4 linked regions of the Homo sapiens genome follow. The protein of the gene in region 3 purifies or fractionates together with the protein of the main gene of each other region. This does not show direct contact. Each region holds a gene or a part of one and is shown on either strand. Other genes may lie near its edges.

The links.
Region 1: the proteins of CAPN12 (region 3) and RIOK2 purify together in Homo sapiens (affinity purification with mass spectrometry; one large-scale study listed by BioGRID and IntAct). This does not show direct contact.
Region 2: the proteins of CAPN12 (region 3) and INA purify together in Homo sapiens (affinity purification with mass spectrometry; one large-scale study listed by BioGRID and IntAct). This does not show direct contact.
Region 4: the proteins of CAPN12 (region 3) and MPP1 purify together in Homo sapiens (affinity purification with mass spectrometry; one large-scale study listed by BioGRID and IntAct). This does not show direct contact.

What each region holds. Positions count from the first base shown.
Region 1 is NC_000005.10:97,165,547-97,170,558, forward strand, and holds part of RIOK2 (serine/threonine-protein kinase RIO2), read right to left. Parts: intron 3,307-5,012; coding exon 3,214-3,306; intron 2,446-3,213; coding exon 1,921-2,445; coding exon of another isoform or gene 1,893-1,920; exon of another isoform or gene 1,200-1,892; intron 1-1,199. UniProt on the Homo sapiens protein: Serine/threonine-protein kinase involved in the final steps of cytoplasmic maturation of the 40S ribosomal subunit. Involved in export of the 40S pre-ribosome particles (pre-40S) from the nucleus to the cytoplasm.
Region 2 is NC_000010.11:103,286,327-103,291,547, reverse strand, and holds the end of INA (alpha-internexin), read right to left. Parts: intron 4,514-5,221; coding exon 4,389-4,513; intron 3,189-4,388; coding exon 2,879-3,188; 3' UTR 1,202-2,878; downstream 1-1,201. UniProt on the Homo sapiens protein: Class-IV neuronal intermediate filament that is able to self-assemble. It is involved in the morphogenesis of neurons.
Region 3 is NC_000019.10:38,734,472-38,739,483, forward strand, and holds part of CAPN12 (calpain-12), read right to left. Parts: exon of another isoform or gene 4,178-5,012; coding exon 4,103-4,177; exon of another isoform or gene 4,033-4,102; coding exon 3,947-4,032; exon of another isoform or gene 3,877-3,946; coding exon 3,802-3,876; exon of another isoform or gene 3,168-3,801; coding exon 3,004-3,167; exon of another isoform or gene 2,918-3,003; coding exon 2,685-2,917; exon of another isoform or gene 2,093-2,684; coding exon 2,081-2,092; exon of another isoform or gene 1,848-2,080; coding exon 1,639-1,847; intron 1,074-1,638; coding exon 1,031-1,073; coding exon of another isoform or gene 959-1,030; coding exon 899-958; intron 400-898; coding exon 342-399; intron 1-341. UniProt on the Homo sapiens protein: Calcium-regulated non-lysosomal thiol-protease.
Region 4 is NC_000023.11:154,777,483-154,782,296, reverse strand, and holds the end of MPP1 (55 kDa erythrocyte membrane protein), read left to right. Parts: intron 1-494; coding exon 495-697; intron 698-983; coding exon 984-1,058; intron 1,059-2,943; coding exon 2,944-3,120; 3' UTR 3,121-3,613; downstream 3,614-4,814. UniProt on the Homo sapiens protein: Essential regulator of neutrophil polarity. Regulates neutrophil polarization by regulating AKT1 phosphorylation through a mechanism that is independent of PIK3CG activity.

The DNA.
Region 1 (5,012 bases), on a different chromosome or scaffold from region 3:
GTACTCATTATAGTCAGCTCCACTAGGGTAGGAAAATCTGCAACCTAGAGACTAATGTTTTTCACATGGCTCAAAGTTTCAATATATGCAATGTATAAAAACTCGGACGATATTAACTCCTAACAGTTAATATTTTTCAGCAACATCTGCTGTTCTGCTTTTACTTTGAATGGAAGTTTTGCCCAGCATGTATCCAGAGTGGGAACAAAATTATTGTTCCCATTCTGAGTTTAAAAGACCATTTAATCCTATATAGATTTTCTTCTATCACTGTGATGGTTAATTTTATATGTTAACTTGACTGGGCCTCAGGGTGCCATATATTTGGTTAAACATTAACTTGGGTGTGTCTTTGAGGGCGTTTCTGAATCAATAAACTGAGTATAGCAGATTGCCCTCCCCAGTGTGGGTGGACCTCATCCAATCCATTGAAGGCCTGATGAGAACAAAAAGGCAAAGTAAGAGAGAACTGTCTTTGAACTGGGACATGGGTCCTCTCCTTTCTTTGGATGTGGACTGGAACTTATGCTATTGTCTCTTCTGGTTCTTAGCTCTTTGGATTTGGACTGGAACTGTACCATGGGCTCTCCTTGGTCTCTAGCTTGTTGACTACAGATCCTGGGACTTCTCAGCCTCCATAACCCCATGGGCTAATTCCTTAAAATAAATCTCCTATTTATTCTGTTTCTTTGAAGAATCCAGTCTAATACAATCACTTACTCAAAATCCTGAGCCTCTGTCACCCCTCTTTTCCTTTTAAGCTTCTGATTTAATTTTCCAAGTTTATTATTTAAATGGCAGTAGCCCTGTGACACAGATACACAGCTATATGAAAAAGGAACAAAATTCTCATGTTTTGCTTCAGGAATAAAACTTTAAAGATAAAGGTAGGCTTAAGATATAAGCCCAAACATGTACTGAAAAATGTTTAATAAATGTATTGCTGAACTAATTTTAATTGTCATATTACTATTTTGAAATAAATAAAACCAATATTTCATTTAACTACAATTTGATTCTGAATAAGCAATCCCAAATCCAAAAATTAAGTTTTAGAACTTTTCCTAATCTAAGCTGAGCCTGATTAATATTTACAAAAAAAAATTATTAAAAGAAAACATAATATCATTAGATAATTTTAACTACACATGAACAAAGGATAGAAGGCTCAAGGTACTAGAGAAAATTCACTGCAGATGTTTCATATAGAAAGTACATTTATTGCATGTTTTAATATTTACATGCCTTTACATAACTCAAACACACATCAGATGTGTAATTAGGAAAATATATGAGGAATAACTCATCCATCTAAAACCTGATCAATGTATCCAGAGACCTGCAATAATTTTAAAATCATCAGTTTGTATATATATATATATTTTTGAGACGGAGTTTTTTGCTCGTCACCCAGGCTGGAGTGCAGTGGTACGATCTTTGGCTTACTGCAACCTCTGCCTCCCAGGTTCAAGTGATTCTCCTGCCTCAGTCTCCCAAGTAGCTGGGATTACAAGCACAGGCCACCATGCCCGGTTAATTTTTATATTTTTAGTAGAGACAGGGTTTTGCCATGTTGGCCTGGCTGGTCTCAAACTCCTGACCTCAGGTGATTTGCCTGCCTTGGCCTCCCAGAAGTGCTGAGATTACAGGCATGAGCGAGCCACTGTGCCCAGCCATCAGTTTGTATTTTAAGGCAGAATTACTTGAAATTTAGTCAATAGGCTGCCTAGAATCAGGTCAATTGAAAAGGAAGCTATTTTGAGTTTTTAACAACAAAAAATTATTTGGCTTTCATTTTATACATCAAGGTGGCAGAATACAATTTTGTCACATCATTTGAAAAAAACATTCTTTTACTAGAATCTAACAAAGTATCAGTCTCAAGACTAAAGTTAAAAAGCAATCGACAGAAGTCTATACCTGAAAGGCCTGAATTCTCTATTTAATGACGACAAGGCAATTAGATGAGGGCATTCATCTTCATACTCGTCAGAGCCAGCAGGGACTCCTCCTTGAACTCTCTGACCATCTTGCCTGTTGTAATTTTCAGTTCTGTTTTTCTCCTCAGAAAATTCAGTTACAGAGTTGTTTTCAACAACCTGCCCTTTTATTTCTTCTAAAGCTTGATTGAATTCAGTCATTTCAAAACTCCGTGCATCAGCACTCTCTTCTGATAAACTGTCTTCCTTTATTTGTTCAGGGTCTCCAGATGATCTGCAATAGCAGCCCTCTGATTCTTCTAGACAGTTCCGTTCACTTTCATTTTCTGACCCGTAAACCTCTGCTTTTTCTGCCACTTCTCCATCTGAAAATGAGAATTCAGATCCCTCTTTTGTTTCAATATTTTTATCATCTGGACCTAATGGATGAAGCAGTTCATCATCTGCCTGCATTTCCTTTGTGTAGCCACTGGCAGAAACCTCCACATCAAGAGTGTCTTCTCTCCTAGAAAAAAAAGGCGTCAAGCATAGAAAGAGAGAAAAAATGTTTATCTAAGAGGAGCAAATATCTACTACTCTGATAAATTATGATTCAAGTGAGTTTAATAGCTTATATGTTAAAAATAAATTTTCCTTCCCTAAAATGTAATATTTAAATGACACAGGTAAACAAATATGAAAGGTATATGCTGGCTGTCATTTTAAGAATAAAATAACTGAAAAGCAACAATATAAATAAAAAGGTTATAAAAACCTCAGCTTATGTTTATTAACTTTGTAAATTAACTTTCAAAGGGGGCTAAGGATTTCCTTCAGATTATGTGACTCATCCCAGATCAGAAAATATCTTAAGTGTATAAAATAAATATGAGAAAACTGAGCTTTGAGAATGCACATGATAGTTATGTTTTGAGAATCAATTAAAGATACCTCCTGGTCCTTGATAAAGGAAAAACACAAATTTCAATGAATGTTTGGTGTTATTCCTTATGAATGAGTTACTCAAATAGCATCCAAAATAGAATAAAAGTTCTTGAATTTATAAGAATCTAGATATGTCCGCTTCCTAAAATTCAGTAACAGTGCCTTAATGGACCAAATGCAGGTATTTTCAAGTTTTTAAGTTTCAGTTATGTACTACAGAGCAATGACATCTAACAGTGATTACGTGTCAAAATTTGGAAAGTTTTTTAGATGAAAATGTTAATTTTTAGAAATACACAGACCAGATATTTAAACTGTTCTATTATGTAAAGCAATGGGGAGTACAAACCTGATATCCTTAAAAGTTGGAAAAAGCTCACTTTCGTAGCTGAAACGTTTCATAAAGAAATCTTTAATGCATTTAACATCTCTGTCAAAATACCTGCAAAAGCAAGAATCATTTATGATATAGTCTTTATTGCTCCTCTTTTTCCTTATTAGCCAATGACAATATACTTATTGGTTAATGGTATTGCTCCTCCTTACACAAGGAGATAAAAGATGTTACACAAAAGAAAAAAGATACAAATGAGTTAACCAGTGTGTTTGAAAAACTAAAATCCAAGGAAATCTCAAGGATATAAGCTGTCAATGCCATGCAGTTCCTACGGTTAGGAAAGTCAAGGTTTTGTCATAGTTACTGGTATATAGTTAGATACACTAGGGAAAGATGAATGTGAACCCCAGGAAATAAGATAATGGGCCTATGGTTTGGGGATAGGTTTCCACTTATTCTGTTCGTCCTGAGTCTGGCTATGCTTCTTATCAGCAACACTCACTAGAACCCCTAGCCAACTGAAAGATCTGACGATAAAAAGATATTAATATTAAACAGTTAAGTTTGGAGACTACTGAATTATGTTTATGTATCTTTGTTATCCATTAGCCGATTTGCAATAACACCCAAAGGGATAAATAATGCTACAGCCTATAAAAATAATCTGAGGACATGTTAATCTGGACCAAAAGTAGAACAATATCTGAATATCAGGCTGCCTTTTTGGGCCACCACAAAGCAGCAAAAATGGATTCAATTCTCTAGAAGATTTCCAGACAAGGGAGAATTAAGGACAGGATAATGTGCAATTGACTCTCTTTGAGAAAGATGAAGTTTGGAAATAGGAAGATAATGCCTCTCCTCTTTGCTCACAGGGTACTCTGGGAAAAATACTAATACATTTTAAAAAGACTATTTTATATATGTTTACATCTCCCTACGAGACAGTAACATTTTCTAAAGCATATATAGGGGTTATTTATATCTCAATCTCTAGCAATTAGCACAGCTCCTTGGCCCCAGAACTGGTTCATAAAAATTGAAATTAAATCACAATGTCTCTCCATAGAACGATGCAGCCTAAACCTAGAATGTCATAATCTGTCACACTCTGGAGGCTCCTAGATGTTCCTTTACTGTGTGACTATGTTACTCCTTATTAATAAAAATCATGATTAGTCATCATCCAAAGAGTACTGACCACCCCAGTGCCAGGCATTAATCTTTTAGTATTATTTTGTTGAAAACGTTTTAAAAATTTATTTTCAAATGACATTTCTTTCTGTAGCATAAGTATAGACATTTTCTACTGGAAACCAGGATGAAGAGACGCTTCACTTAACAAAACTACTTCAAGCTCAATCTCTGGAAGAATTAATATACTCTATTATATAAGTGATACTAGTTGTTAGTTTAGGAAAAAAGTTTCTCATAAAGCTTGGAACAGAAAGAAAAAAAAATCCTTAGTTACACTCAATTGAATCATAAACCTCAAGCAAATAAAGGATAAGGTCCTGTTTCATGACTTGGCTGGCTTGGTTTAAATAAGTAATGTGAAGAATATGATTATCGCAGTATATCATGATTCTGCACTGTGTCAGAGATAAAGTTTTATGTGATTTTTTTTCTAATAAATAAAGCTAAAAGTGACAAGAGGTAATTATCACTGGTTTGACAACTGAGTCCAGTCCAAAACCACAACTTTTATTCAGATCATCGAGATTACTGAGTTATACTTGGTGAATCTCTCTTGGAGGCAATCATGGAACAGCAAGAAAAAGGGAAAGACAAAAGTGGTTCTAGAGTTCCCC
Region 2 (5,221 bases), on a different chromosome or scaffold from region 3:
TACTTTGGGAGGCCGAGGCGGGTGGATCATTTGAGGTCAGGAGGTCGAGACCAGCCTGGCCAACATGATGAAACCCCGTCTCCACTGAAAATACAAAAATTAGCTGGGCGTGGTGGCACACACCTGTAGTTCCAGCTACATGGGAGGCTGAGGAAGGAGAATCGCTTGAACCCAGGAGGTGGAGGTTGCAGTGAGCCGAAATCATGCCACTGCACTCCAGCCTGAACAACAGAGCAAGACTCCATCTCATTAAAAAAAAAAAAAAAAAAAAGGGAAGAAAAGCAAGTATTGTAGAGTCAGACAGAAGACAAGGGTCCAAAGCTCAGCTCTGCCACTTCCTGTGTGATATCAGACCAGGGTATTAACCTTGTTATTCTGAGGTTCTACTTCTTCATTTGTAAAATGGGGATACAAATACTATACCTAACGAGTAGTTGTGAGGTTTATACAATTCTGTTTACTAGCTCATATAGTGTCTGACACATAGTAAATAGGTACTGAATAAAGTTTAGCTATTATGAAGTCTCTGGATGCAGGGGATATAATTGTCTAATGAATCTGAAAGTCATATGGGATATCATTAGCACATGCTGCAGGAAGGCTTTCCCCTCATCTCTTGGATTCATTTTGTTGTCTTGTTTAGGTAACAGTTGATGTCACTTGCTTTCCTTCTCTTGACCTCTCTGCTTTGATTCTGAACATTTTCCATGTTATCTATTATTCTGAATTAATCATTTTTCAACTCTGTAAGTTACTCTTCTTTTTTTTGAGATAGGGTCTCACTCTGTTGCCCAAGCTGGAGTGCAGTGGCGTGATCTCAACTCACTGCAGCATCCACCTCCCGGGCTGAAGTGATCCTCCCACCTCAGCTCCCCAGTAGCTGGGACTACAGGAGCCACCACAGTTGGCTAATTTTTGTATTTTTTTGAGAGATGAGGTCTCCCTATGTTGCCCAGGCTGGTCTCGAACTCCTGGGATCAGGCCATCTGCCCCACCACCCCCACCTTGGCCTCCCAAAGTGTTGGGATTCCAGGCATGAGCCACCACGCTTGGCCAATATCTTTCTTCTATAAATAAGTTCATGGCAATTAAGGTGGCTCACTAAAAAGAGAAGATACAAATCAGTCAGAGCCAGACTGACTCTGAACCCAAACAGTGCTTCTCTCAGTGAAAGGGCAGGAACCACAGAACACGAATTATGTTGGTGAGATTCGTGTGACTTTTAATTTATTATGTTACTAATGTCTTACAGTAAGTGTGAGGAGTAAAGACAGGGATGGGGTAAAGGTAAGGAAAAGTATTTTTCAAGTTCCTTGAACTATTGAAGCATGTGCTAGGATAAGAAAGTTCAGTAAAAGCATCATGTCCTTATCACCAGAGCTCTTAAAGGAGACATGGAACAGAGACGGGGCAACTCTTCAGCTCTGGCCGAAGTGACTGCTGGACAGAGAACAAATCCTGCATCAGCCTTGGCACACATGAAAGACTGGGCAATGCAGATGCTACACAGTTGGGCAGATGAAGAGCTGACTGTCCAGAATCTACTTCTAGCAAGCGAGTAGGCGCATGCACACCCCTTCTCTGGTCTGAGTGTCTCTTCCTCTCCGGCAGGACCCCACCAACTGTGCAGCCATGGGGTAAGTGTTAGGGAAGTCTTTTAGAAAAGAGAAAGATGTCTTTCTTATATATACGCTGGTAGTGTTGATTGACCAGAAGTGGTTTCTTTTACTTTGGGGCGGTAGCATTGTGTTCTGGTGACAAAATATCCTACACTTAGCACTCGTAAAAGGCATAGGAGAGTGAAAGCAACGCCTCTTTATGACCTAGGCTAGTGGGAAGGGGAATACGTGGATTCTAAGGGTAAGGGGATGAAAAAGCTAATTCTATATCACCACAAATGAACTGACACATAAATGACACCTTGGCTTTTTCCACTCATAGAAACACTCACTTCTTCTAGCTTACACTACTAAATCTAAGGTCGGCTTCATCACAGTTTGGGATATTTACTGTGCTTCTAAAGTAAAGGTGAAAAGCTACATCCTTAATAGTTTTTTTCCTAATTAAATAGATTTGTGTAAGCTGAAAGCCTAAAGTCTAGGGATTCTTTGCATTATTTTATATGTTGGGGGAAACCCTTAAAATTCATCACTGCCATTTTTTTAACCTACAGAATTGAAAGAATATGAAATGGGCAGGGATAAGTAATTACACGAATCATAGACATGGTCAACATGCATCTAATTTTACCCACTGAGCAGAGCGCGAATGGGGGTAAGTTCTTTTGAGAAGAACCAAAATGTGTTTAAAAGGGAAGAATACTACACTAGACTATTTTTTTCCTACATAGAAGAAAAGGATATATGGAATTGAAGGAGGTGAAAAGTGTCCATTAAACAAACACCTATTATTTGTGAAATAATTCTATCAGAGTGGAATTGGGTGTGGACCATTAGTTTATCTCTGGCAGTGATCTTATGTTTTAGGTATCTAGAGTAAGATTATTTAGCTGGGTAATGGCTGGGTAGCATGAATAGTTTTAATTTCAGTTCACAGCAAATGACGATGATCGCAGATTTAGCACCTTAGTTTGTACTTCCTCTGCACCTGAATCATCGATCACTGTGAAGCGTGAGCTGAAGGTCAGAAAGCTGTATTCTTAGATAACTCATCTGTGATTGCTCCAGGACTGCAGTTTACTTCAATCTAAGGGGTGGTTTTCTTATTAGAGAATGTAAGTATTCAATACTAAATATGAGACTGAAGCCTTGAAGACATTTTATAGTGGTGGCAGGTGTTATAGTTCAGGAATAGGCTGTTTAACAAGTCAAATGCATATCATTCCCTCTTAAGCATTAACTTTTTCAAAGCAATGGAATTATATTTTTTGGCTTGAAATGGTGGTTTCTTCTATATTTGATTTCTCGGTTTTCTTAGTAGATATTACTGTCTCCTCTAATATTTCTTCAAAACTTTCCCCTATCTGGGAGGTTTTCTTAGAGGCTACCTTAGATGCCTCCTCCTCCTCCTCCTCTTTCTTAAGTGATAGCCCAGTGGATGAGACTTTGGAGGTTGTAGCACTGAGGATTCTAGGTGGGAGCAGGTAACTTGGATTGGGAAGTGGATTCAGCCCCGAAATGCTTAACCCACTGGTGCTAAAACGTGTCTCCTCGCCTTCCAGCAGTTTCCTGTAAATTCAACAGAGAAAAACTCTTAGGAAGTCAATAACTTTTCCCCCCCAGAACTCAACCCTCCAATCCTGATTCATTTGAGAGAGATTCCAAAGGACTTTGGAGTTTCTTCATGAGATTGAAACCAATAAATATTTAATTTCAAAGCTCAAAGGGTTGGACCACGTGCATACGCATGCGCACACACACACCCCCCTTCAGCACCAGCTATGTTTAAAGCATTGTCAAAGGAAAACCTATCCTGTTCACAAATATATTCCAGGAGGAAAACCTGCAACTCCACTTGGCCACATCACACCCATTTTTGGCAATTAGCAACAAAGCTCTAGGGAGAAGTACTTTTCCTAAGTAACACCTTAGCTGCAATAGGGATAAGGAGGTGAGATGTCCACAAAGGTGGTAGAAACTGTCTTACTCAACCTGGATTTGAGATTTGTACTTTTTCAGTGTATACGGGTACAAAGGGAATAGAACCAGCAATAACAAAAACCAGTGAATGACACTGTTTCAGATAACAGATTTTTATCAGCGTGACGAAAACAGTCTTATAAAAGAGTGGCCCCAAACCATGTTTCTCATAACTCTTAATAGTTTTTAATTATCCTTTTTTTTTTTTTTTTTTTTTAGACAGAGTCTCACTGTCTCCCAGGCTGGAGTGCAGTGACATGATCACAGCTCACTGCAACCTCCACCTCCCAGGTTCAAGCGATTCTCTTGCCTCAGCCTCCAGAGTAGCTGGGACTGCAGGTGTGTGCCACCACGCCTGGCCAATTTTTGTGTTTTTAGTAGAGACTGGGTTTCACCATGTTGGCCAGGCTGGTCTTGAACTCCTGATCTCAAGTGATCCACCCACCTTGGCCTCCCAAAGTGCTGGGATTATAGGAGTGAGCTACTGCACTTGGCCCCAAACCCTATTTTTAAAGTTACGAGTCTCATGGGTTTTTATTTTAACCTCTGTGTACTCACATTATCCCCTTAAATCCTTTCAGAGGTACACAGAATACTCTGGGACTAGTCAGATGGAGCTGGATTATATCTAAGTAGAGGGACAGAGCAGTCAGCTCACCTGAAAGGGGCCAGTGATGCCCTTCTTCCCTCCCTCACCAGTCAGAAGCCAGAGAGACTAGATCCACTTATTTGGGCAGCATTGCCCCTAGGTGACTGGATTTACTCGGGTAAGCAGGTCCTTTGCAGTACCTGTAAGCTGCTATCTCAATGTCAAGAGCCATTTTGACATTGAGCAAGTCCTGGTATTCCCGAAGGTGGCGTGCCATCTCACTCTTGGTGTTCCTCAGATCATTCTCCAGCTGCCCAATGCTATCCTGAAAAGTAACATATCCAAAATAGTTAGGCCAAACCAGCTGAAATTCCTCAAGATTTCCAGAAGGCAAGGATTCCCAGCCCTGACTACACATTAAAATCATCTAATGAACTTATAACTTGCTTATATCCAGGTCTGTCCCTGAGTCCAGATCCAGATTCACTGGTTCTGGGGTGGGGTCCCAGCATTTGCATTTTTTTCATAAAGGTCCCCAGGAGATTTGGACTCATGGTGAGGACTGGGAACTTTTACCCAGAGGGCAAGTGAACACCTGCCCTTTTCAGGATAGCCACACGGCATATAGTTCTGAACTGAACATGGAGATGATTTTTTTTTTTTTTACACTTACCATCCCTCCCTTGCTTGTTGTGTTGCTGCTAAATAACTCTGTTGTAGCATGTGCTTTCCAAAACCCAAAGCCTCAGGTTAGCAGCTTAGATTCAGAAAATTCCGAATGTGGAAAGCACAGAGAGCTTTCCAGGAAGACCTCTCTGCCTCCATTCATTTTGATGATTTCCTAGAAGCCTGCTAATCAGTCACTTTACTGAGAGCATTTTACATTATAGGTAAGGAGAAAGCAGAAATACTCCACAGAATTTTTAAAACACCGAGGCATGGAAGAGAAATCGCTTTATATTTATATATTTATAGTCCTTGAGCAGCCAGAAGGAATTCTTTTTTTTTTTTTTTTTTTTTTTTTGAGACAAGG
Region 3 (5,012 bases):
AGCAGGTGATGTTGTCAGTCCCATATTATAGAAGCCGAGGCACAGGGAGCCAGTGACTGCTGCGCCTAGCAGAGCTGGGATTCAAATCCAGGCAGGGGGTGCCCAGTCTGTGCTCAAGGCAGCCTTGCCTTTCAGCGGAAGGGGAGCTTGCGAGCAGCCGTGGCCCAGGTCACGGGGCCCACACAAGATCCCCTGCAGGGAGATGCTGCCAGGCTGAGCCCTGGCTTCCTGAGCCCAACTCCCAGCAGCGCGGTGGGTTCATAGACATAGGGTGGCACCGGCTCTGGTTGCAGGACCCCTGGCTAAGACCCCTCCTCCTGCCCCTATCCCAGCCAACTCACCAGGCTCCAGGGCAATGCTTAGTAAGGCCTGGAGCTGAGAGGCATTGAGTTCTTCCTCCTAGTCCAGGAAAGAGGGCTTGTGAGGCCATTTACTCATCCAGCTGCTCTGGGCCAAGCCCTGTGCTAGGGACACGGCAGGGGCTGACAGAGCCTCAGAGCCCTAGCTCCAGGAGTGGGGGAGACAGACCTGTCCCCACAGGGCCAGGGCTGTGACGGGGGAAGCACTGGGCTGTGGTTGCTGGTGGGGGGCCAGCAGACCGGCCTGGGGCAGGGGGGTGGTCAGGGAGAGCTTCCAGGGCTGGGCACCTTAGATGAGACCTGAGCCTGGCTGGAGGTGTCAGGAGGGAGAGGGTGGTCCTGGGAGAGGGTATGGACTGAGCCCAAGGCCCTGAGGCAGGGAGGAGCTGTGAGCATTTCAAGAAAAGGTCAGGAGATTTAAGCCCGGAGGGAGGAAAAAGCAAGCAAAATGAGACACCTGAGATGCTGGGGTGGGGGAAGGGGGGTCCCCAAGGGGAGGCCGCAGCGGGATACCCCCTCAGTCCAATCCCCCTCCTCACCTCTCCAGCCAGCTCCTGAAACAGCTGCTCCAACCCCAGCTCCAGGGGCAGGTAGGGGCCCTGCCGCATGGCGGAAGTTTAGCGCTGGCCAAGATCCCCGCCCCATGCCGCCCCTCCAGGAACAGTCCCCACCTGGAGAGACTGCAGGTCTGCGCTGATCACGTCGTCGATCTCCCTGCAAATTACAGATGGGAAGTGGGGAGGGGGCTGTTTGCCCCAGCTGGGGCTGTGTGGGACGGGGTCTCAGGTGAGGAATCGCGTGGGGTCTAGGTAGGGACCGTGGAGCCCTGGGCTCATCCTCGCGGGGCGGGGGTTCTGGGGGCGGGGCGGGGGTTCTGGGGGCGGGGCGGGGGTTCTGGGGGCGGGGCGGGGGTTCTGGGGGCGGGGCGGGGGTTCTGGGGGCGGGGCGGGGCGGGGGTTCTGGGGGCGGGGCGGGGCGGGGGTTCTGGGGGCGGGGCGGGGGTTCTGGGGGCGGGGCGGGGCGGGGCGGTGGTTCTGCGGGCGGGGCGGGGCGGGGCGGGGCGGGGCGGGGGTTCTGGGGGCGGGGCGGGGCGGGGCGGGGGTTCTGGGGGCGGGGCGGGGCGGGGGTTCTGGGGGCGGGGCGGGGCGGGGCAGGGGTTCTGGGGGCGGGGCAGGTCAGGTCTCGGGGGTCTCGGGGGTCTCGGGGGTCTCGGGGGTCTCGGGGGTCTCGGGGCCTGTCTAGGCAGGGATGGGGTCGGATTTGGGTGCCCGGGGCTCACACGGCCGTGTGGCGGCGCTCGGAGAAGACACGCAGAGTGAAGTCAGCCTCGTCGCCGGCGTGGGCGGTGCTCGGCACCACCAGGTAGTGGCCTGGACGCAGGCAGCAGCGGCGGGTCACGTCGCGGCGGGCGCTGAGGGGCGAGCGGTCGGCGCGCAGCAGCCGGGGCAGGAGCGCATGGCTGCGCGGGGAATCCCAGAGGCCCAGCAGCTGGGGACGGGGCGGCATGACCACGGACCAGGCTCACCCCCGGCCCTTCATCCCCGCACCCTCCAGCGCGCCCCGTCCACCCTGCCTAACCCCTGTCCACGCCTCCCCTGCCCCCGGACCCGGCTCTGCCCCCCCACCCCCAGGGCAGTTTGACCAAGCCCCAGGGCAGGTTGACCAAGCCCCAGGGCAGGTTGACCAAGCCCCAGGGCCGGTTGACCCCATCCCAGACTCACCTCCTCTGGAATCTGAAAGAAGCAAGAGCAAGGGGCGTCGGGGCAGGGGAGAGGTGGCCGCCGCTCAGGGTCTCCTCCCTGCCCCTTCTCACCTCTGTGCTCTCTCCCTCCTTCTTCGTCCTATTAGACCCTTATTGAACCTTTGCCCCGCAGTCCCCGACCCAGGCCCTCGCCGACCCCTCCCCAACTCTTCCTTCCCCATCTGCGCTCCCAGCGCCTTCTCTGTATCCTTGGTCCCCTCTGGCCCTTCTAACCCCCAGCCTCTCTCTGTCCCTAACCTCGTCCCTCTGTCTGTCCCTGAGCCCCTCCCTCTCATTCCCTTAGCTCCCTCTCCCCTCTGAGACCTGGCCCCCCAGCCCTACTAGCCCCCTACTCCCCTCCCAGCGCCGCCCCCTCTTGGCCCTGCTCCTCCACTCCTCCCCTCCTCCCCGATCCTCTTCAGTCCCACCCCTCCACCACTCCCCCTCTTCCCCCTTGGCCCCGCCCTCCACACCTCCCCTCTTCCCACTGGCCCCGCCCCTCCATGCCTCCCCCGCTCCTTGGCCCGGCCCCGCCCCTCCACCCTCCGGGTTCCCTCCAGCCTCAGCTTTGCCCAGGACCTCACCTGGAACACGTGGAAGCCAACGGTGAGGTAAGTGAGGCCCTTGGCTCTCAGGCGCCGCCGGTTGCGCTGGATGAGGGACAGAAGGACCGTGCACTTGGGCGTGCGGCCCCCCCGCGCTGGGCCCCGTGCCCCTGCAGCCCCCCAGCCCCCCCAGGGCCCTTCCTCATCCTCGTCATCCTCCTCATCAGGCTCCAGCAGCGTTAAACGGAACTGAGGATTGGTCCAGAAGGTTTCTAAGGGAGGAGGAAAAAAGGGGGTTTCCTAGCCGGCCACAGCGCCCCCCACCCCAGGAAGCCTCTCAGGGCCCCTCAGGCCTCACCAGCATTAGGCTGGCTCCCGCCGGAGTTGAAGCCACGCACCCAGCGGCCTTGGAAGGTGTGGACGTGCCAGCCGCCCCCCTCCGGGCTGGGGCCCAGCACCTCCGGGCTCAGCGAGCAGATCTGCACGGTGTCGAAATGGAGGAGGAAGTCCCGCAGCTCCATCCTGCACGGTGGCCCAGTCAGACCCTGCCCGGCCCCACCTCGAGGGGGTCCCAAGATCCCGGAAATGACTCCCAGATCCCAAAGCCCCTCACATTTCTTAAATATTGTCAAATACCCTTCAGGCTCCAGAAATGAACCCCAAATGCCTGGGCCTCTAGCTCTGCCAAATTCCTCCAAGTCCTCAGACATGCCCCACAAATCGCCAAGATTCACAAGCTGCCCCCAAATATCGTTAAATTGCCACCAACCCCCAAATAGCAAGACCCTCAGACTCTAAATTACCAACAAGTACCCTTCAGCCCCTCAACATTGCCAAATCTCAAGAAATGCCCCAAATATCACCAAGCCTTCCTCCATTGCCCTAAATACTGCCCATCCCTTTCAATCCTCCACAGATAACTAGGCCTTCAAATTCCCCTCATATTACTACTTTTTTAAACCCACTCCAATCAGAGGTTCTCTAATATTACTACCAATTCTTCCTTGATTTCCCAAAATAGAACCTGGCCCCAAAATTACCACCGATGTACACAGTTTCTCCCTATTAGGACCCATCCTTCAACTGGGGCTCGCCCTCCCTGAACCCCTTGGCAGAGACCCTCCCAGAGGCAGAGCTGGGACCCTGACGAACTGACCAGAACTCGCCATCCTCCTTTTTCACCAGCAGGGCATCGCGGCACTCGGTGGGGAGTGTGTCCCAGCGTGGGCAGCTGGAGAGACTGTGGTGTGAGGGGCGGGCAGGTGGGGTCCAGCCCCACACCCACCCCAGACCCATCCCACCTGTCGCTCCAGGCCCCCGTCCACTCCACGCAGCCCCATGGGTTCCGCAGCCGCAGCAGCCGCACCTTGGTGAAGCCCAGGAACACCTGGGGCAGCATCGTCAGTGGGGGTGATGCCTGGACATGGCCTGCCACCCCACCCATGGGGGACACTTACCTTGTGTGTGCCCGTGATGGAATACGCGTGTCCCTTTACCAGGCCCTCTTCTGTGCGGTACTCACCCCGATCACTCTGGGCAGGGGATGGGATGGTGAGGCCAAGGTAGGGGACAGGAGGGCAGCTGCTCCTCCCTGCCCCCAACCTCCTGCCACCAAGGCAGGAGCCAACCAGAGCACTGAACTGAATGGCACGCAGCTCAGAGACCATGTCAGGGTTAGTGACTGAAGGCGAAAGAGAAAAGGAGAGGAAGGGAGATGGAAACGAGACAAAAGGAGATGGAGGTACGGGCTCACGCCTGTAATCCCAGCACTTAGGGAGGTCGAGGTGGAAGGACTACTTGAGGCCAGGAGTCCAAGACCAGCCTGGGCAACATAGCAAGACCCCAAGTCTACAAAAATTTTAAAAATTCAACAGGCGTGGTGGTGCACACCAGTGGTCCCAGCTACTCTGGAGGCTGAGGCAGGAGGATCCCTTGAGCCCAGAGGTCAAGGCTATAGTGAGCTATGATGACACTACTGCACTCTGGCCTGGGTGACAGAGTGAGATGAGACCCTGCCTCCAAAAACAAAAACAAACAAAATAGATGGAAAGAGGCCTGTTGTGGTGGCTCACACCTGTAATCCCAGCACTTTGGGAGGCCGAGGCGGGCAGATCACAAGGTCAGGAGATTGAGACCATCCTGGCTAACACAGTGAAACCCCATCTCTACTAAAAATACAAAAAACTAGCTGGGCATGGTGGCGGGCGCCTGTAGTCCCAGCTACTCGGGAGGCAAAGCAGGAGAATTGCTTGAACTTGGGTGACAGAGGTTACAGTGAGCCAAGGTCGTGCCACTGCACTCCAGCCTGGGTGACAGAGCAAGATTCCGTCTCAAAAAAAAAAAAAAAAAAAAAAAAGATGGAAAGAG
Region 4 (4,814 bases), on a different chromosome or scaffold from region 3:
GCATATTTTACTGATTAGACAATTTATATGAGTAATAGAAAATAGTCCAACTTTTAACAACATGAGCTGAAACTAAACCAAAGTACTCTTCTTTCCAAGTCATGAAAAGGAAACCTTAAATATATTTCCAAGAAATCCTGACCATAGTCTGTAGATCTGTTTTTAAAATATTTTCCGCTATCTTCATTTCTAAGTTTCAATATTCCTAGATTTGGTAGTTTGAGAGATGTAACTTCATTTAGGGAAAATGATAATAGGAATTTTCTATGTTAGGCTTTGCCCCTTAAAAATTAAATGTGTCCTGGGCAGATGGAGGGATTTCCTGGTGTGCATCACTTTCTAGCATCAGCTCTTCAGGAGCCCACGGGAGGAACCCCTGTATTAAAGTCAATGCACCAAAGGCAGCTAGGGTTTCCATACAGACACCATGGTCCAAGCCCTCATGAAAGGGTGAGGACCTGGAGTTTGTCGGGGATTTGGGTTCTTGTACACAGATACAACACGGCCGCCAAGGAAGAGTGAGGAAGATGGGAAGGAGTACCACTTTATCTCAACGGAGGAGATGACGAGGAACATCTCTGCCAATGAGTTCTTGGAGTTTGGCAGCTACCAAGGCAACATGTTTGGCACCAAATTTGAAACAGTGCACCAGATCCATAAGCAGAACAAGATTGCCATCCTTGACATTGAGCCCCAGGTGGGTAGGCATGGAAGGGCAGGGACAGATGGGCTCAGCCACACAAGGGATGGCGAAGACAGTGCTCCTTGGGAATCTTCTGGGGGCTCAGGATTGCTTCAGCCTTTTAATGGGGTCAGCCTGGAACAAGAACAGTAGTACTGGGAATGATGGAAAGTTGTATTGGGGTAAAGCTCAAAGCTGCTTATTAGAAGGAATCCATTATGACAGCTATGTAGGTTTTTTTTTTTCACTTTCCTTTTCTTCCTTCCCCCCCCTCCCCGCCGCCCTTCTTTTTTTTTTCTAGACCCTGAAAATTGTTCGGACAGCAGAACTTTCGCCTTTCATTGTGTTCATTGCACCTACTGACCAGGGCACTCAGGTGAGGAGAGGTTGTGCGCGATGGGTAGTTCACTTTCTCCGGGCCTGCCCATACTGGGACCTCAGTCCAGGTCATTGGCCAGAGTGCTGGCTGGAGGTCACAGCTCCAGCTGGGCTTCTTCCTCCAGGGCCAAGAAGCCAAAGGGTATGCACATTCGTTCCAGCTCTTAAGCCACTAGCTAGGCCAGTGCCCATGCTACCTAACAGGGACAAAACAAACCAGACCCAGTCATCGTCCTGGAGGCACACAGTTCCAGGGGCAGAGATGGACAGTTGAGCAGATCCTGATACTGGTGGGATGCAGGCTCTGGCAGGGGAAGCTGTGATGGACAGAGGTGGCACTGAACCCGCCCTGGGGTGCAGTATGGCTGTGGGGAAAGACAGAGAGGCCAGGAATATATCAAAAAGCCTACCCTGCTCCTCTGCCCAGCCCTACCCATGCACTTTGCTGCACTGTGCTTTTGCATTGAACAATGGACACCTTTCCCTATCAGGGTGTGAGGAACTCTTTTTCTCTATAGCTGCTTGGTCTTCTGCTGCATGCATGTGTAATACTGCAGTCAATAGCCCTGTGCATATAGCACATGTGTGCAAATATATCTGTAGGAAAAACTCCAAGTAGGATCACTGGGTCCAAGAGCACACACACTTAGAATTTGGACAGGGACCGCCAACCACCTGTGAGACTGCTTGTTTCTCTTTGCCTGCAGCATGTTGTCAAAATTTTCTTTTTTTGCCAGTCTACTGGAGGGAAAAATAGTATCTCATATTTCTTTTTTACTAAAAGAGATGATCAGGTACTTTTTCATATGAAGAGCAATTTGTATTGCCTTTTCTGAGAATTATCTGGTCATACCCTTAGCTCATTTTTCTGCTGAGTTATTGACCTTTGATTTATAGGAAGTCTATATTAGGGTAATTAGCCCTTTGTAATATCAGCTGCAATTTTTTTCCAATTTGGCATGTCTTTTTGCTATGCAGACATTTTTACTTTTATGTAGTTACATGATTTGTCTTTCATGGCTGCTTGGTTTTAGGTCAAAGACAGAGTCCTGAGATATATATACACACACATTTTTAAATTTTGTTTTTTGTAGAAATGGGGTCTCACTGTGTTGCCAGGCTGGTCTTGAACTCCTGTGCTCAAGCAATCATCCTGCCTTGGCCTTCCAAAGTGCTGGGATTACAGGTGTGATCTGGGATTAGAAGTCACCTTTATCTGACTGGGTGCAGTGGCTCACACCTGTAATCCCAGCACTTTGAGAGGCCGAGGCGGGCGGATCACCTGAGGTCTAAAGTTCCAGACCAGCCTGGCCAACATGGCAAAACCCTGTCTCTACTAAAAATACAAAAATTAGCCAGATGTGGTGGCGCATGCCTGTAATCCCAGCTACTCGGGAGGCTGAGACACGAGAATTGCTTGAACCCGGGAGGCGGAGGTTGCAGTGAGCCGAGATTGTGCCACTGCACTCCAGCCTGGGCCACAGAGCAAGACACTGTCTCAAAACAAAACAAAACAACAAAATCACCTTTATCTTCGTTTTAGGATTGCAGCTCTGGTGGTTGTTGAAATGGCTCTTCCATGTTCAAAGGGCATTAAGTGGGAGATGCTGGTGAAGTCCATGCTGTCTCTGCATAGCTATTGGTCCTCCAGAGGACTCTGATTAGTCAGGGTTAGCTTGAGATCCTCTGAGAATTGCCATGGTCTTTTGAGATTGCCTCTTCATGCCCTACATTAACATTCTTTCACAATGTCTTCTGAATTTGACTCGTCAAGTATGATGCACAGCTGAGCAACGCTAACAATTGCTGTTTAAAATCTGTCACTGGCCTCTCTGGGCTGGGGGTGGTGCAGCTTGCTTCATCTGTGGCTTTCTTCTTTGCAGACAGAAGCCCTGCAGCAGCTGCAGAAGGACTCTGAGGCCATCCGCAGCCAGTACGCTCACTACTTTGACCTCTCACTGGTCAATAATGGTGTTGATGAAACCCTTAAGAAATTACAAGAAGCCTTCGACCAAGCGTGCAGTTCTCCACAGTGGGTGCCTGTCTCCTGGGTTTACTAAGCTTGTAGAATGGGGGAACCCACTGTATGCCCCTCTCCAGCATTTGGAATTCCACCCGCCTTGCTTTAAGACAAACAGGGCTGCTCCAACTAGTTTTGTGTCAGCTTCCAGCTCTCTGCAGCTATCCTAATTCAGCCAGTAAGGTTCAGTCTTCTTGCTCAGGCTCCTGAAGGGTTGATTCTCCTGATAGATGGGGCCCCACTGATCTGGATTTGAAAAGGATTTCTAGAAATTGGGGGTAAGAAGTACTACCAAAATGTAACTGCTAATCAAGGGTGATGCACAGCAAAAGCAATGGACCCCATCCCTCTAAAGCCTGCCCTCCTTTGCCTTCAACTGTATATGCTGGGTATTTCATTTGTCTTTTTATTTTGGAGAAAGCGTTTTTAACTGCAACTTTCTATAATGCCAAAATGACACATCTGTGCAATAGAATGATGTCTGCTCTAGGGAAACCTTCAAAAGCAATAAAAATGCTGTGTTGAAATGCCAATGACCTTGTAACTCTGGGTTTCCACACAAAAAGAAATGTGGCCCATTTCACTTAAGCTCCTGGACAACAGCATTAACACAAGATGCCTCTCTTGTGTTCAGATGATAAACACTGGTGCCCTGGAAGAGTCCCCATTCTCTGCCCCCACTGCAGGGCTCTACTGGCTAGTGCCCATGTAGAAAAACACCCTTAAGGTTGTTGTAGCTAGTGGAGCGCTCATTGTGGGCACATATTTAGAACGAGAGAAAATCCAAGCCTGGGGTCCCGTGGTACAGTGGAGGCCGGTCGCTGAGCCAGGGCTGGGGCCCACCCTGCATGCCTGGCTCATGATATGGCTACAGCTCAGGGCCTCGCCTCGCTGCATCCAAGAGCGCTTTTTTTTTTTTTTTTTTTTTTTTTTTTTTGAGACAGTCTGTTTTGCCAGGCTGGAGTGCAGTGGCAGGATCTCGGCTCACTGCAACCTCCACCTCCCAGGTTCCAGGGGATTCTCCTGCCTCAGCCTCCCGAGTAGCTGGGATTACAGGCACACGCCACCACACCTGGCTAATTTTTGTATTTGTAGTAGAGATGGGTTTTGCCATGTTGGCCCAGGCTGGTCTCAGACTCCTGACCTCGGGTGATCTGCCCGCCTCAGCCTCCCAAAGCACTGGGATTATAGGTGTGAGCCATTGCACCCGGCCTCTTTCTTGGTTCTTAATACCAAATCGGAAGCAACCCTAGACCTTTCTTCCACTAATCTGTCACCAAGGCCTTCAGATTCCTGCATGTCCCCACCCTCAGCTTCGTTCTCCCGACTCACCCTGCCCCCCGCTCCTGCCAGGCCCACTATGTATAAATACATTAACCCTCTCCTTCTCTGTTCTTCTAGAGATCAGTGGTTTTGTGGTAATCACTGCCTCTGAGTACTTGATCTCACATCAGATGACAGGGCCCAAGGTGGATTGTGTAAGATACAGAACAAAAATGTAAAAACCAGAAAACAAACATAAAAGCATCACATTTCAAATAGGACATAAAGGTCCCTAGATTTTTAATCAAAATATTTTACAATTTTTGCTCTGCTAGCATGAGATCAACAAGAAAACCCAACAGGAATACATAAAAAACTTAACAAGTTGACTTTAATAAGTAAAAATTACAACATTCTTCTCCCAGCAATGAACAATTTCATTTTTTAAAAGTAAACGAGGCCTAAAACAAG